Linked DNA regions of Homo sapiens: region 1 is linked to region 2. Evidence: fine-mapped expression QTL. A gene starts in region 2. The other region holds a variant in brackets. All regions are shown on one strand. Distances are from middle to middle.

The links. PIP is the estimated chance that this variant, and not a neighbour inherited with it, causes the effect.
Region 1: its variant is fine-mapped to the expression of APELA in lymphoblastoid cells (GEUVADIS, PIP 0.95).

The regions. Positions count from the first base shown.
Region 1 is chr4:164,951,150-164,959,493 of GRCh38, forward strand. FAM218A (family with sequence similarity 218 member A) reads left to right here and starts at 5,799. Exons shown (of 1, transcript NR_160935.1): 1 at 5,799-7,982. It also overlaps a transcript of TRIM61 not described here. RefSeq lists enhancers at 5,549-5,598, 5,899-6,058. The variant C/CA (reference allele first, on the strand shown) is at 4,419.
Region 2 is chr4:164,873,232-164,881,575 of GRCh38, forward strand. APELA (apelin receptor early endogenous ligand) reads left to right here and starts at 3,947. Exons shown (of 3, transcript NM_001297550.2): 1 at 3,947-4,176; 2 at 5,689-5,778. The coding sequence starts at 4,101. The coding sequence ends at 5,777. RefSeq lists an enhancer at 1-279.

The sequences.
Region 1 (8,344 bases), 78 kb after region 2:
CTCTCCCAATGTTATTGACATGATTTACTCCATCCAATCAGCAAGTGGTAAATATCTGGCTACTAAAGATTTGGCTAGTTTTTTTCAGGCCTATTTCTACAGCTTCCTGGCCATGCTTTCCCTTTACCTCAAAGGAATTTTATGCATCTCTACCCACTAATCGTGGGCACCTCAGCAGTCTTGCCTTTGCACACAGACCTTGTAGGGAAGATTCCAACTTCATTCAACTTCTTCCAGAACAGCAGGTATGATTTACATGGATGACATTCTCCTCCATGGTGATCCATTTGAAACACTCATTCAAGCCATGAAAATACTCACAAAAGAGTTTACACAAAGGGAATGGGTCATTTCCCCCATACAGTGCAAGCCTCTTATTCGATTAATTGCCTGAAAATTATTTGGTAAACTGAAAGCAACTCCATCTCTGACACTGTGGAGAAACAGCTATAAAACCTTTCAATGCCCACAATGTGAAAACAAGCCCAGTATCTTTAACACTTTTTGGATTCTGGAGGAAACATACTCATCATTTATAAATTTTGCTTAAGGTCACTTATGCTGTTACTTCCAAATCCACCCATCTTTAATGGGGCCCCCTCCACGAAAGGCCTACAGACTCTAAATTGTAGTACATTAAGCTCTCACAGGCACTGAGCCTCTAACTCTTCATACTCAGTTGCTCAGCATGCCTTGGATTCTAGAAGCAGCACCCTGCTAGTTCAGCACAGGTATAGGAGGAATCCTTGTTACATCATAGAGCCAGACGCAGGCCCTCTGCCATATTTCATCCACAGGAAGGGGTAGCCTGCCTACCTTGTCCTTAGTCCCTGCCACATGCCACTGGGTTTAGGAGATGGCTCCTCTCTTAGGTCCTTTGGCTACCTGAGAGACCTCCCCCTCACACCTCCGGGATCAAATGATAAACAGCAGTGGGGGTTTATACACTGTAAGGATGGCATAACCATTGCCATGCATGATGAGCTCAGTAGGGATTTACTACTTTTCATTTATTAATCAGGACATTCTTAACAAGCAAAAGGACTCCAAGGTCAGTCAATGGATGGAACTTCAGGCCATCTTCTCAGAATTGGAGCCCCTGACCAATGATCAGCCCAATATGCAGTTTTACTAACTATGGAGCCATAGCCTTGGAGTTACCTGCTTCAGAGTAAAGAATTCTTGCCTCACAAATATCCAAAATCTAACTCAAGGTCACACATTTCTCTATATACACTAAGGCCACAATACGAAACCTCAACAGGATCTGGAACTCCTTTGGAGTTCCAGACATTACTGAGAGGGACCAAAGACTCATTTCACTTCCCAGAATATGCAATGCTGGGGTCCTGAAGAAGGCATTCAATGGAATTGTAACTTCCCTTACTAGATTAAGCTGTCAGCTTCATTAAGCACCATAAAGGCTTACTCAAACAAGTTCAAATTCAATGAAATGAAACATGGTGCATCTAATCAACAGTTAAACATCAGGGTGTGGGGGAATCCTACAAAATAGTTCAAATCCATTTTTACAGTTTTTCACCCTTGATAACTTTTAATCGTCACTCCTCCATTTTTTTCTTTGGCCGCACATTTGGGCAACCTGCCAAGAAAGCCCAGGTGCTCCCTCCTTCAGGGCAGGAAAGAGATTCAAACCAGGCAACTTTCATTGTGAATGAGTGATCCCTCACCCTGCCCACACCTTAACCTGAAGAAAAACACCAAGCCCGTCTTCTTTCTCTGCTCTCACAGTCCATTTACAGACCACCTACAGGCCTGTGCTGCTCTCCTTCAACACCCCAGCATGTGAGAAACAAACCTGTTCCTATCCTTCTAGTGTGTGTGTGGGTGTGTGGCATAATCAGTCTTTATATCTGGACTAAATTTGATGGGTGTTCAATTTTTCCCATGTGGGGTTGACACAACAATAATTAGGATGCTGTATGATCTCAGTTTAATTATTGGGATATTATGGAAAAGTCCCAACATGCAGAAAGAGAGACATAATTGTACAATAGATCACCCCAACCCCCATAGATCCATTACACAATTTCAATAATTATTATGGTCAATTTTATTTTATCAAGATCATGCTCTACCTTCCCCAAATCATTTTAATGCAGTATTCATACATCATATCATTTTATCTATATCTTAAAATAAATCACTAAAAGAACGATTTTAAAAGTGTAAGTGCAGTATAGGTATCACATTTAATATTTAAATATAGTTTCATTCCCTCTCTGGGTGGTCCACCCTCCCCGCACCTCAAGGTGTTCACAAATCTCAAAGCTCCTCATATTACTTTCTTCAAGAATTTGTATAAAGTTTATTTTCCAGGTCCCCCCACCATCCTACTGAAAGTTCTAATCACTTGGTCTTCTGTGAGTAGCCCTATCCTGAGGCTACCCTGGGGCCCCAACCCAACCCACCTCATTAGCATAAATCCAGTTGATCCAAAGGGGCTCATTATGAATAACAAAAGACTGGCTGGGAGCCATGGCTGTAATGCCAGCACTTTGGGAGGTCAAGAAAGGAGGATAAGGCCAGGAGTTCCAAACTAGCCTGGCCTACATAGTGAGACACCGTTTCTTCAAAAAGAATAATTTTTAAAAATTAGCTGGGCATGGTGATGTGTGCCTGCAGTCCTAGCTATTTGGAAGGTTGAGGCTGGAGGATTGCTTGAGCCCAGGAGTTCCAGGTTACAGTGAACCATGACTGCATCACTGCACAACAGGGTGACAGAGCAACATCCTGTGTCCAAAAAAAAGTGAAACAAAAAAACCCAGCACTTGCCCTTATGCTCCACTCAGTGCATGATGTGTTACTTCCGCAGCTCCCACCCCATCACAACCATTCTGCAGGTCCCTACCCCTGTCCCCTTCACCAACCCAGGACCCTGCAGGAGCAATCAGAGAACAAGAGAGAACTGCCCTCTGGGACCTGTCACTTCCCCCATGCTGACTGCATAAGGAAAAAAAAACTCCCTACAGGGTTTAAGACTGAATTCGTTCTGAGGTCACCATTTTGGTGAACAAGAAGTAGGGACTGTGTTGCGTCTTCTGACCTGGATCGACGAAGAAACAGCTCTGCAAGGATGGAAAAAGCTGACAATCCCCAGTGAACTGCTGACAAGTGAATACAGGTAGGCTCCGCACCCTACACTAACCCTCTACTGGGAGCAGAATATCTGAGTGAGGATTGCACCAGGAGGCACAGGTGAGCTACACTCAGTAAAGGGCGTGCAGCCTTTGGCTGGACCTAAGCTGGGGAAAGTAGCCACATAGGAAGGAACCTTGGGGAGTTTGTGCATTTTATTTTTTAACCATCAGTTTTGTATTATTAGAAAGATAAACATTCCAATATACATCTAAAATTATATATATTGATTATAATTCAATATGTTCTTGTATTAATTAGCATATTTATATGTACATATTATACAGAAATACATATAATTACATACCTTACAAATGTAATTAAAATTTTATTATGGTATAGGAACATATACATACCCTACACATGGTTGGCAGCATGGCTATAATCCCAGCACTTTGGGAGGTCAAGGCAGGAAGATCGCTTGAGGTCAGGAGTTCCAGACCAGCCTGGGCAACCATCTCTACAAAAAATAAAATATAAATATGCTGTTTTATATTTACTTAAAATTTTATTGGCCCAGCACAGTGGCTCATGCCTGTAATCCCAGCACTTTGGGAGGCCAAGGCAGGCAGATCACAAGGTCAAGAGATCGAGACCATCTGGCCAACATGATGAAACCCTGTCTCTACTAGAAATACAGAAGTTAGCTGGGCATGGTGGAGGGCACCTGTAGTCCCAGCTACTCAGGAGCCAGAGGCAGAAGAATCGCTTGATCCCGGGAGGCGGAGGTTGAAGTGAGCCGAGATCGTGCAACTGCACTCCAGCCTGGTGACAGAAGGAGACTCCATCTCAAAAAAAAAAAAAAAAAAAATTATTATGGTATTATAGTAGTATACACATGTCCTACACATAACCTATTTGGTTCACTCTTTACTCTGACATCGTATATGAGACAGTTCTTTTGTATGTTGTATGACAATCACAGATTTGGACTTCTCATAAGGGGCCTCATGCTGGTTTGCCCTAATTACATCTAATTATGTCTGAACTGTTCTGCATAATCAGCATATCTACCATTAAACAGTCAACAGAAGAATCAGAAACACAAACCATTCTTGGAATATATTGAGTTCTGTGCCACACCAAATCCTATGTTTTAAAAAATTTTTTCCAGGCTGAGCTCAATGGCTCAAGACTGCAACCCGAGTAGTGTGGGAGGCCCAGGCAGGAAGATTGCTTGAGGTCAAGAGTTTGAGGCTACAGTGAGCTACGAACTTGCCACTGCAGTCCAGCCTGGGTGACTAAGAGAGATTCAGTCT[C/CA]AAAAAAAAAAAAAAAAAAAAAACAAGTTTTCCAGAAGATATGTCTTTATTGGTGTTTATATTTACAGAAAACTTAAAGGGAAATTGAGGTTGATTTTCCTTGTCTTCATGTGACCACAAAAGGATGAAGAGAGGATATCAGGGACCAGCCCCAGATGACTCAGGTAATCTGAGACCAGGCCTGGGATCCACACACAAGACACACACACCCAGATGGAAGCACAATGCCTAGTCTCGCTCTTTCCTCAATCCCGATTTAAACTAATTTGGCAGTTTTATGAGATTAAAGAGGGTGTAGACAGGAAATTGGTAGAGGATGGAAAATCGATTAAGATTAGGGACAACTGTGAGGAGGAAGACAAAGGAGACAGAATCTGAGAGCCCTGAGGCGGACTGAAAACGGGGAGGCGGCTCAAAGAAAAGAGTAAGAGAAATGAGCTTTTCTGGAACGAGGCATTGATAACGCTGAAACATGATTAGCCTTTTGAAATAAATCTTTCGTTTATTTATTTTTTTGAGACAAGCTCTCGTTCTGTCGTCCAGACTGAGGTGCAGTGGCGCCATCCTGGCTCACTGCAACCTCAACTCCCCAGGTTCAAGCGATTCTCCCACCTCAGCCTCCGGAGTAGCTGGGACCACAGGGGCGGGCCAACATGTCCGGCTAATTTTTGTATTTTTTGTACAGACAGGGTTTCACCATGTTGGCCTGGCTGGTCTCAAACTCCAGAGCTCATGTGATCCGCCCACCTCAGCCTACCAAAGTGCTGGGATTACAGGCATGAGCTTCCATGCCGGGTATAAAAGGAAGCTTTTAAATTGTGGAGTATTTCATACATCCATAATAGTAGAGAGAACATTATGAAGAACGTACACATAAAAAGAAACCAATTTCTATCATTTGAATTAACAATCTTTATAACCCCAGCAACTTCTCCTGCCAATGGAGTAAATTCCCAGACATCTTATAATTTCATCTGTATATTTCATCTTATAATTTCATTATTTATTCCCTAAAAGACAATATCTCAATTATCATAGTGTTACTGTAACTTTTAATAAGCTGTTCAGTGGGAATTATAACCATATTTTTCTCCAACCAGTTATAAATAAGATTCAATAAATTAAAACAGCAACTGGAATTCTCTTCTGTTAAGGCGGGGCAGGGAGAGCCCTCAGTCTGGCACAGGTAGGGTTGGGTGGCAGAAGAGCAAAGCAAACAGCTGAGGTTCCTTCAGAATGCAACTTTCTCACAGAACACAAGGCTCTCAAGGGGCTTCAGCACCCCAAGCACTGCAGCGTTTCTCCCAGGAGGCTGGGCGAGTCCGTAGCGGAAGTCGGAGCGGCAGAGCAGTGATTGGGTGCGGCCGGCACCGTCTCTGGGCTTCGACTTCCGGGTGAGACCGTGAAGGTGTGGCGCGACGTTGGAGACCGGGGCAGCGCCATGTACCACAGTGGATGGAAGGATGCGCGGTGCGGCGGGGCAGCTGTCCTCTTCTCCCCGGACCCAGCGCCTGGAGAGCCAGCCCTGCAGGGTGGGCTGGGCGAGCCAAACTGCGTTCCTGGTGCAGGGCTTCGGGTCTCCCTAACAGACCTTATACGCTGACCGGCGGCCGCCATGGCAGTGTCTCTTTGCTCAGACATCCAGGGACGACCACATTCGTCCAACAGCGGTCGCTCCACCAATCCTGGGAGAAGCGAATCGTTTTCTCCGCGTGCCCTGTCAGCCGCTCATGGTGCCCAGAGAGGAATTTTAGTGGCAGCATTCCGGCTGTCACGCCACCGAAATTGCCAGGCCACTCCAAGTCAGAAGGACCACCAGGAAAAGTCAGGAAGAGAACCACCATCAGGTCCCAGCCTCTTTTTGTGACAAGGACTAGAGGGTTTGGGTCTGCAGTGGGCTGGCTCCCGCTGGGCTCACCTGTCCTATAGAGCAGGCTGCCTCAAGGAAGAAGCTCACAGGGGACATCTGACATCTGAAACAGCAAGTGTAAAATGCTTTAAATAAGCCAAAACTAAACCAATCGTTATGTTAACTAAAAATACATGAATGCTACCGAAGATAGTCGAATATTAGAGGAAGAGATTAAACTCTGATTTTGAGCACTTTGTGCTTTATTCGGAAAATGAATAAGATGCAGTTCTGAAAACCTGAAAATATAAAGAATAGGATATGATACGCACACTAGATGAAAACAAAACTTTCAGACCATATTTTCTTATTTAAAGCTCTAATAAGTGAGATAGCAGAGTAAACTATTCACTCAAATAATTAGTAACTGATATAAGGGTATGTATCAATAACAGGTATTAAGACAAAAACTTTATGAGCTTTTCCATTTTAACAAGGGATGATGATTCTAGACTTCTGCCACAACATTATGGTCGACAAAACATTCTTAATTCATTTTACATAGATCTGACTCTAGATTCTGAAACAGCAAGTCATAATCTTGTATCTCTAAAGATAGAATACAGTGCGATTTGGAAAGACACCACAAAAACTCATGATCCAAAAAAGATTAAGGCTGTTATTACCAGGAGGAAGAGAAAGAGGACAAAATCAAACTGGATAGATATAATAGAGTTGTTTGTTAGAATTGTCTTCCCAGGAGATGGAAAAAGACGCCATCACAATAGGATTCATGCTTTAGTTTTCAGCTATAGAAATGTAATAACTTTGCCAAAGTAATTACACTACATAGAGTGGCAATCGTTCTATTAAAAGTAAGACCCAGTAATGTTAGGATTTGTTCTGGACAATGAAGGGGATGAGGTTTAATCTTATGACTTGAATGCCAGGTCTGAAATCTTTTCTTCAAGTGATATTTTTATGAAACTACTTAGGCTGTGTTTCACACTGGGTATGATTTCTAACCTCTTATAACCTGTACAGTAATAGATTATGAAGGATGAATTATTTGAAAGCTATTTTGTATTATTTAGGAGAGGAGCTCTTCAATTCTGAATTGTCTGCCACTTACAAGCAGAAGAAAGTTTTTTTCTTTCATTATTTTAGCAACTATCAATAAAACAGTATTAGAAATGCCTACTCTTCAGAGATGTAATGGGAATAAATTGTAAAGTACTTTTGATATTCTAAGATGAAAGATGGTATTACACAGTCAATAATTCAATGCTTCCCACATTATGAATTTTATCAAAATTATGTAGAGAGCTATTAGTTCATTCCAGCAACAAAACAGGCTTATATAAAAACAAAAACCTCCTGGGTCATGCCATCCTACACCAAATTCCTGTTAAACAGAGGCATGATTTATTCCAGTGACCTTGCTATTTCTTCATAACTGTAATATGTCTAATGTTAGACATTTTAAATTAACATTCTATTAGATAAACTGAGAATTTAGGTCTCTCGCACCACCCAGGCACATACTCTATCTTTCCCCACAAATATCCAAATATGGTAATATAATTGGATTAATACGTTCATATGACTATATAATTGTTCACAGCTGAGCCACTTAGGTGCTATAATTATAATTTCTTTGATACACAAATTTTGTTTTATTGTGATTAAAATTGCCTGATTTCTTACTTGCTGCATTTTCTGTTTATCTCTTTCAGCCCCATATCTGCTCATCTCTAAAGTTCCTTTCTAAACTCGACATGTAATTTGTTGATTATATTCATTTTCTTTATAGTGCTCAATCTCCTGAAGCCCTCTGTCATCTTAGCATGAACTGAAATTTGGTGATATGATGCACAGCTGTCCTCTGAGGCCTTTCATGTTTCCCTTACCCTAAGAATTATCTTTTATCTTCTGTCTTATGTCCAGAGGTTTTAAGTCTATTGTTGTCTGAGTCCCTTGTTTTCCTTCTTAGTTTTCTTCCCTTCTTTTGGTGAGCGTATCACCAGGTAGTTCCCTGAAAAAGGGGACTTGGAAGATGTGCCAGTCATTTTCCTTG
Region 2 (8,344 bases):
TTTGGGGGGCCAAGGCGGGTAGATCACCTGAGGTCAAGGGTTCGAGACCAGCCTGGCTAGGAAGGAAGGAAGGGAGGGAGAGAGGGAGGGAGGGAGGGAGAAAGGAAGGAAGAAGGAAGGAAGGAAGGAAGGAAGGAAGGAAGGAAGGAAGGAAGGAAGGAAGGAAGGAAGGGAGGTTAGTTTAATGCTTGGACTCTATTTCAGACATCTAGCTGAATGATAATGGGCAAAGGGAGAGAAATTTTAGGTTGGAAAGAGTACTTTTATAGGGAGAGAGGGATGCAGTAAAGAAGGAAAGACTGAAGCCAGGTGCGGTGGCTCACGCCTATAATCCCAGCACTTTGGGAGGCCAAGGCGAGTGGATCACGAGGTCAGGAGATCGAGACCATCCTGGTTAACATGGTGAAACCCCGTTTCTACAAAAATACAAAAAATTAGCCTGGCGCGGTGGCGAGTAGTCCCAGCTACTCAGGAGGCTGAGGCAGGAGAATGGCGTGAACCCGGGAGGCGGAGCTTGCAGTGAGCCGAGATTGCGCCACTGCACTCCAGCCTGGGCGACAGGGTGAGACTCTGTCTCAAAAAAATAAAAAATAAAAAAGAAGGAAAGACTGAAGATGCAAGTGGCAACGATGAAATCAATTGGGAAGGATATCCTAGGAAAAGTTAGGGCACAAGATCCAAATCAAAGAGATAAGAGGCCCAGGACTGAGAGACACAGGCCTCATATTAACTTTGCTATGAGCTATTTTATCTGGGGCAAATCACTTAATCCTCTGAGTTTGTTGCCTTTTCTGTAAAATGAAGATAGAGCTTACATCATAAGATTATGATGTGTAAACAAAATAACATTTGTTAAATACCTGGCATATATAGTATACTACTATAAAATAAGTATATATTTATTGGATTATACAGAGAATATTTATATCCTTATAGAATATATGTAGGTACAGAAATGTATTGATTTCCTAGGGCTGTTATAACAAAGTGCCACAGACTGGGTGGCTTAAAATAACATAAATTTGTTCTTTCAAATTCAGGAGGCTAGAAGTCCAAAATCAAAGTGTCAGTAGTGTTGATTTTTGGAAACTCAGAGAATGATTTTGTTCCATGTCTCTCCCCTAACTTCTGGTGGTTGCTGGCTATCTTTGGCATTGGTTCCTTGGTTCACGGTAGCATAACTCTCATCTTTGCCTCTATCATCACAGAGCTCCTCCCCACCTGTCCCTGTGTGTCTCTGTCTCTTCTTTTTGCTATAAGGACAGCCGCCATATTGGATTTAGGACCCACCCTACTCCAGTATGACCTCAATCTTAACTGATTACATTTGCAATGACCCTATTTCAAAATAAGGCCACATTCTGGGTTCCAGATGGACATAAATTTTATGGGGCACAATATTCAACCTCGTACAAGAAATATATTGCTAACTTATCTTTTGTTTTATAATAGCTTCAATAGGCTTTTTTTTTTTTTTTTTTTTTCTTTTTTAAGAACTGGGATTGGGGCCTTAAAAGGGAGGATAGCGAAATGTTTGAGGGCTGAGATTATGGAATTTGGATCCCATCTATTCCTCTTCCGGTCATCTAGCCCTTGGAGGCTACACCTCTTTAGCTGTCAGTTTTCTCATCTGGTAAACAGGGAGTCATGATACTTCAGAGTGTTTTGGGGAGGATTATGCGAAGTAACATATGCAACACACTTAACATAGGATTTGGCCCGGGGCACAGCCCTTGCCTCCCTCACAAAGGCTGTCTGTAGGATAGAAGTCTAGGTTTGTGTTCCTGTAAACAAAGAAGATGCCTTGTTCTCTTATACTTGCAGGCTGAAAGTGCTGTTTGCAGAGCCAGTTGCATTGTTCTGACACTTTCCTACCAATATTTCTCCATACCTAGTTATTCAGTACTAAGATGAATGATTTATTGCTATTGTTGACTCACATTCCACAGAAATGCTGGATCACTTTTCATTGTACCTCCATGTCTAACATTTCAGTTGCTCATTGACTGTATAATCACTTTATTACTATACTCCAAAAGTCAACTATTTAAACAACATCTTTTTGTTTGTCTTTTTGAAAGACTAATTTTAAAACATGTAAATAAATCATGTGTAAATTTTCATGAGTTTAATACATAATCACTCTTTCAGGTAGAAAACCAGGTATTTTATCACATCTTTTTTCTTTTAATGAGAAAAATAATGTTCTATGTGGTTAGATGACTTAAATATAACAGTTTGCTCTGTCCTGATCAGTGGAGATATGTATCTTCCACAGCACTGGTGCATATTAGTGATATTCTAGGAATTCATTGTTGATCACCTGGTAATGAAATATAAAAATTTTAGTCAATATTTGCTCTCTGTGGTAGGTCTCTATCTTATCTATAAAGACTCACTACTAAACCTTTGAATAGACTTAAAACTTGGCCTGAAAATATAGTGCCAAAATCTATATTGATCTCTTATTGATTTAACATTCAACTTTGTTAGCATGCTGTTTTCCTGAATGCTGTACTAAGAAGACTGGGGCGGGAAATGGGGAGGGATTTAAAAATCTGAATAAACTCTTTGCCATTCTTAAGTCACTTGTATATCATGAGTTCAAACTCTATTGTATTCCATTGATTTTATGAAGCAATGGACAGCATGGTAAAGTAGGACCCTTTAACACTATGCTTGCAGTCCCCAAACAGGTCAATATATTCTCAAGACTTCAATAAAGTGAATTTAAGAATTTTTGTATGCCATCGCCTATTATAAACTTCATGCCTAACTAGACAGGCAGGGAAATTTACAGATTGACTTATAAAATCAAGACAAATTGTGCATTAAATTCAAACCTCAGGAAGCCCCAAGGTTATGTACCAACTACCTGAGTCTAAAGAAGCCAAATACAACAAAATTCCTAATGGTTCAAAACAAATTACACATGCTTTAGAGCTAGTACTTTGGCTGTACTTGTGTTTCAAGGCATACCTATACTATTCTTTTGGCATTTTGCATTTTACCTAAAATATGTTCGATATGGATGTTATAAATGGAATTTATTATACTTACATAATAAGTATAGTCATTTCCATTTATAACAGCTGTATCTGATATATAAGGGAGCACTTGAAACAAAAAGAGATCTTGGTGCATGTGTGTAAAAGACAAGGCTAGACTGTTTTTGTGTTTTCTGAATTCACTGGGAGATGAACTAAGACTTGTTTTCTCCATCTCCAATTTCTGTGACTGTGGTATGTTAGCCTGGTATTCCACCACATATAAATTTTTAACCGAACACAGATTTCATGAGTTTGTGGCTTGCCTGAACTTCCTTTTTTAAAATCCTGGACATTTGCAGATGAAAATAATCTGTTACTTTTAAAACTGCACTTTACAAAATATTAATATAAATGTATATGTTTTGCAGATTTATTTCAAAACATTCTAAATTCCAAAAATCTTTACTGTTACAAACCCAGTGAATTAGGCAATTTGGAGAGTTCGTGTAAACAGGCACTACTTTGCAGTAAGTTTGGTAAAGATAAAGCATTTCAGCACATGTTCTGCCACAAAGCATTTGGGACTCTTATGTTAGAGCTTCAGAATTCCTTCTGAAAAAGACAAAAGAGAGACTTCCTGTCATTTCCACTGGTTTCTGCATGTGGGACCAATATGGGCAAAGTTTAAACAGATGCAAATGGTAAGGGGAGGAGGCAGTGTCACGTCTTGTTTTACGTATTTCTTCATATCCAGATTGAATTTAAGTCATTCTCTTCTTGGAGCTTTTGGAGTACACTTCCACTAAAGTTATAGCATGCTTGAATGGTTTATTTCACCAATATTTGCTTATGGAAATAAAGGGGAGTGGCCGAGGAGAAAGGAGAAGAGGAGTGGAGGAGGGGTTTGAGGCTGAGGGAGGCTCTGACCACAGCACAGAGCACCGGCAACTTTGTCTAATGTGATCATTAACCTTCCTGCAAAACACAGCTGGCAGTTCTCTGAGGTTTGTCACTAGAATGTGAAGACAGCCACACAGATATTGCACAGACTATTTACAGATCGTTTGGTTTACATTGAGAGTCATTGCTCTACTTTTGTGCGGTAGGAAAATGAGATTTCAGCAATTCCTTTTTGCATTTTTTATTTTTATTATGAGTCTTCTCCTTATCAGCGGACAGAGACCAGGTAGGCCTTTGATACATTTGTACAAGTAACTTGTTTTGCCTGTTTGCATCCCTGGGTCTCTGAGCATGATTGTGTTTATCTGAAAACCACTTAGGTGTGCTTGCAGTTAGTAGTATTGGGGATAAATGTGTAGGATTTTGAAAGTATGCTATCTATCCTGTTGGGTCTATTATTTCAATATTTTAAAAACATCTGGACTTTGAAATGATAAGTATTTTACCACTATTTTTCCTAAATGCCAAGAAAATAGATCTCTAAGCTATTGCAGATTATGTTGTCTTTACAAGTAAAATGAAACAGAAGTGTTCGTCTATTCATTATAAAGGTAAATAAATGTATAGATTTTTAGGTAAAATGCAAACTCCAAAGCAGTTTATTTAAAAAGTATGTTGCTGCCCAGAGTAGGGGCTGAATTAACATACAAAAAGCATAATGCAACAAAATGCAGATTAAATCTTAAAACAGGTCAATAGCTGTCATTTCTAATTATGTAACTAGGCATGTCACTTAAAACAAATAAGTGCAGTTTTTATTATTATGCTTATACAGCTAAAAAGCATCAAAAATATGTATGATAAAGATACATAATATTAATTTACTTGACATGTTTTCAAAGATGATATCAAGTATATTGTACTTAACCAACAGAAATTTAGTACACAAAAGTATTCTAATGTACTTTTACTTCAAAACCAAACAGCTAAGATTTCAAAGAACCAGTAAGTTTGAAAAAAAAAAGAAAGAAAAGAGAGAAAAGAAGAGAGAAAGAAAGAAAGAAAGAAACAGAAAAAAGAAAGAAAGAAAGAAAGAAAGAAATTAGAAAGTTAAAGTTTTCTGAACCACAAACCCAACTTTAAATAAAAAGGTGGTAATATTTACATCCAAATATGTTAAATTATTCACTTGATAATATACTTCTTCAGTTAGAACAGAAAACGATGCATCACTTGTTAAAAATTCAGACTTTGCTTTTTAGTGAATTAGAAGTTTGATCACTGTGAGTTTATTTCGAATGATGTCCCCTGGTCTGTGCTTTTACATAAGTAAGAAAAAAGTTCCAATTCAGCAACTCTGAGAAAGCAGCTTGATCCCTTCTCATTGTTTACAGCAGTCACTATTCAAACCATTTATACTTTTCAGAAATACACAGTAGCTTTGACAATGTTCTTACAAAATATTTGTGATTAATTTACTACATAAAATAAAAGGTCTAGGAGCATTTAGGAAAAAATCATTCAAAAGGAGGAGGATATTACTATTAAGATGTTGCTATGTTGCTCAACGATGGAGTTAAAAAAATAGGAGTAAAAGAAGATCTTGCTATTAACATTAACTGTTAGGAACACCCCTTGTGTATATGCATCACATTGGTTTTTAATTTTATAATCACATTTGAACAAATGGCAAATAACCACAATCTAGTTTGGCTCCAAAATATGTTTGCATTGTCTAGATTAAACAACAATTAAGCCTCTGAAAAATGCTCCTAATACTTCTCTCTTTTTCCTTCAGTTAATTTGACCATGAGAAGAAAACTGCGCAAACACAATTGCCTTCAGAGGAGATGTATGCCTCTCCATTCACGAGTACCCTTTCCCTGAGGTATTTCTGACAGAAAATAGATTCGCTACATTTAGGCAGTGTTCCAAATTAGATATACCAGGAAATGTTTCTTCACAGTTTGTAATATGTGATAATGGCTTATGGCAATGTCAAGACTTAAGAGATGCATACCAATAAATGAAAGAGTTAAATGAATGACATGACTTTTGAGAATTGCTTTAATAGTTAAGGAAGAAAATTAGACAGATGAGGACAATGTAGGAAAATCTTGATAACTGTTGAATCTGAGTAACAGCTATTTGGGGGCTAATATTATTGCGGATGTTATGCAGAACGAGCCGATTCCCCTATTAAGACCAGTGTGTATGAAAGCATTTGGATGTATTCACCCAACAGCCCCATACCAGCAATGAACTACCATCAATACTTCGGGGTTTCTTTTCTTCTCCTCCTCTCCTCCTCTCCTCCTCTCTCCTCTTACCTCTCCCCTCTCCCCCAGGGTCTTGCTCTGTCACCCAGGCTGGAGTGTAATGATGTGATCCCAGCTCATTGCAGCCTCAACCTCCCGGGCTCAAGTGATCCTCCCACCTCAGCCCCCCAAGTAGCTGGGACTACAGGCATGCGCCACCACTCCTGGGTAATTTTTGTATTTTTTGTAGAGATGAGGGTTCCCCATTTTGCGCAGGCTGGTCTCGAACTCCTAGCCTCAAGTGATCCACCCGCCTTGGCCTTCCAAAGTGCTGGAATTTCAGATGTAAGCCACCACACTTCATATTCCTATTCAACTATTATTTGCCCTCAGGGTTTATTTATTTTTTCTGAAAATATTTCTTTTAATAGATAAAGTAAAGTTAACACTAATAAAATGGCAGCTTTCCAGCCTCACCAATAGTAGTGATCTTGATAGTCACATCTTAAGGATAAATTCTGGTAGAGTTTTGCTCCTCCCTTTTCTTGTTTTTACACTTGTTAAATAATGTTAGACCACCACAATTACTGGTAATACTGCTTGAATCAGTTAACTTCAAACACTGTCCAAGTTTAAGTCACTTCATACTAAAAAATACACAGTTTGGCATTCCATTGTAAGTATTTCAAGCTCATTAATTCATTTAAGATATAGCTTCCTTAAAAAATGCCACAGAAATATCCCTCATCTGGTTAACATACACAGGCAATGGCAAAATTAGCTTATTCAGTTGGCCTGTAGAGTAGCTTTTACGGTTCCATTCATTCAGTGGAAAGAACAGTTGCTGTATCTATTGTTTAATGCATGCTTTCCAAACCCGGGGAAAGCCCTGTAGTAGAAAATTAAATGAAGGAGGAGCAATTTCATAATAAACATTTATCAAAAGGATTGAGACAAAAATGTCAAGTTCTCTATGTCTATATCTGTAACAAATTAATCTTTGTTATCAAAATATGAAAAATAGCTTTGGTGGAGGAATCCAGAAAGATACAGTAGGAGGTTTCTGAGAAGCCAATTAATGGTGATTGAAACATGCTTTAAAAAGATTTTCTGTGTTAAAATATCCTTTGGTGTGTGTTGATAATGCTTCCAGCAGAGCATTTCAGTGTCATGTATGAAATAATGGTAAAAATCTGTGCTTAAGAGGAATAGAGACACCCCAGATTTTTCCAGCACTCCTTCATAAATAACAAAGAGGAGAGGACACATTTCACAATAGCAAGAGAATTCCTGCATATACAAAGAAAGATACCTTGCAAAATATAAACACAAGTCTTTAGATAGCCACATATTATCCTCAAATCACATACCATAAAAACCAGTGTTACAAGTAAGCATGAATAGTGAAATTTGAATTTTTAAAGTTGAGGGGAATTTTGACTTACAAATCAAGTTTGTAAACCAAAGGGAAATTTAATTAAAGCTATGCAAACTACTTAATAATAGCAACTCTTTACAAAAGTTGGCTGAGAGCTTATAAAACTGCTTGGGTGACAGCATCCATTTTCTCAGTTTTAGACTCGTTCTACATTTCAGCTACTGTTCTTTGAAGAATGTTTAAAAGTCACCTGTTGGAATCTACTGTAAGAGTTAATGTAAGATAAACATTAGAAAATTTTTCAAGACCTTGCTCAACCAGCACTATAATAACAAGTGCTACCTTCAGATCTGATAACATAATTCTCACTGTCCTAAATACTTTCCCATTTTTTATATGTTTTGCAACAAAGGCACTTTGATAACTGGGTAAATGTACTGTAAACCTAGGTAGTGGACTCTAAGGCAAAACACCCCTTTCACTTCTTCCCCTCTAATTTTTTGGATGCTTTAGATAAAATCACATGTGGTTATTTGATCAGTTAGGATCAAGTAAGACTTTGTAAAAGGATAGGTAAGGTAAACAATTGACTTTGAAAGTTTTCCAGATTAACCCTTTATTAGAGTGTTCAGACCTTTAGCTCTTTTAATAGAAATGTCATATTATCTTTACTCTGTCAATTTTTCCAGCTCCTAGGGTCATCCTCAATGATCCCAGCCTATGCAACTGAATTAATTACACAGAAAATTACATGCTGTATGCCGTTCATTTCCTTGATTTTTTTTTCTCAGAAATATTTTGGCACCACCTTCAGTCCT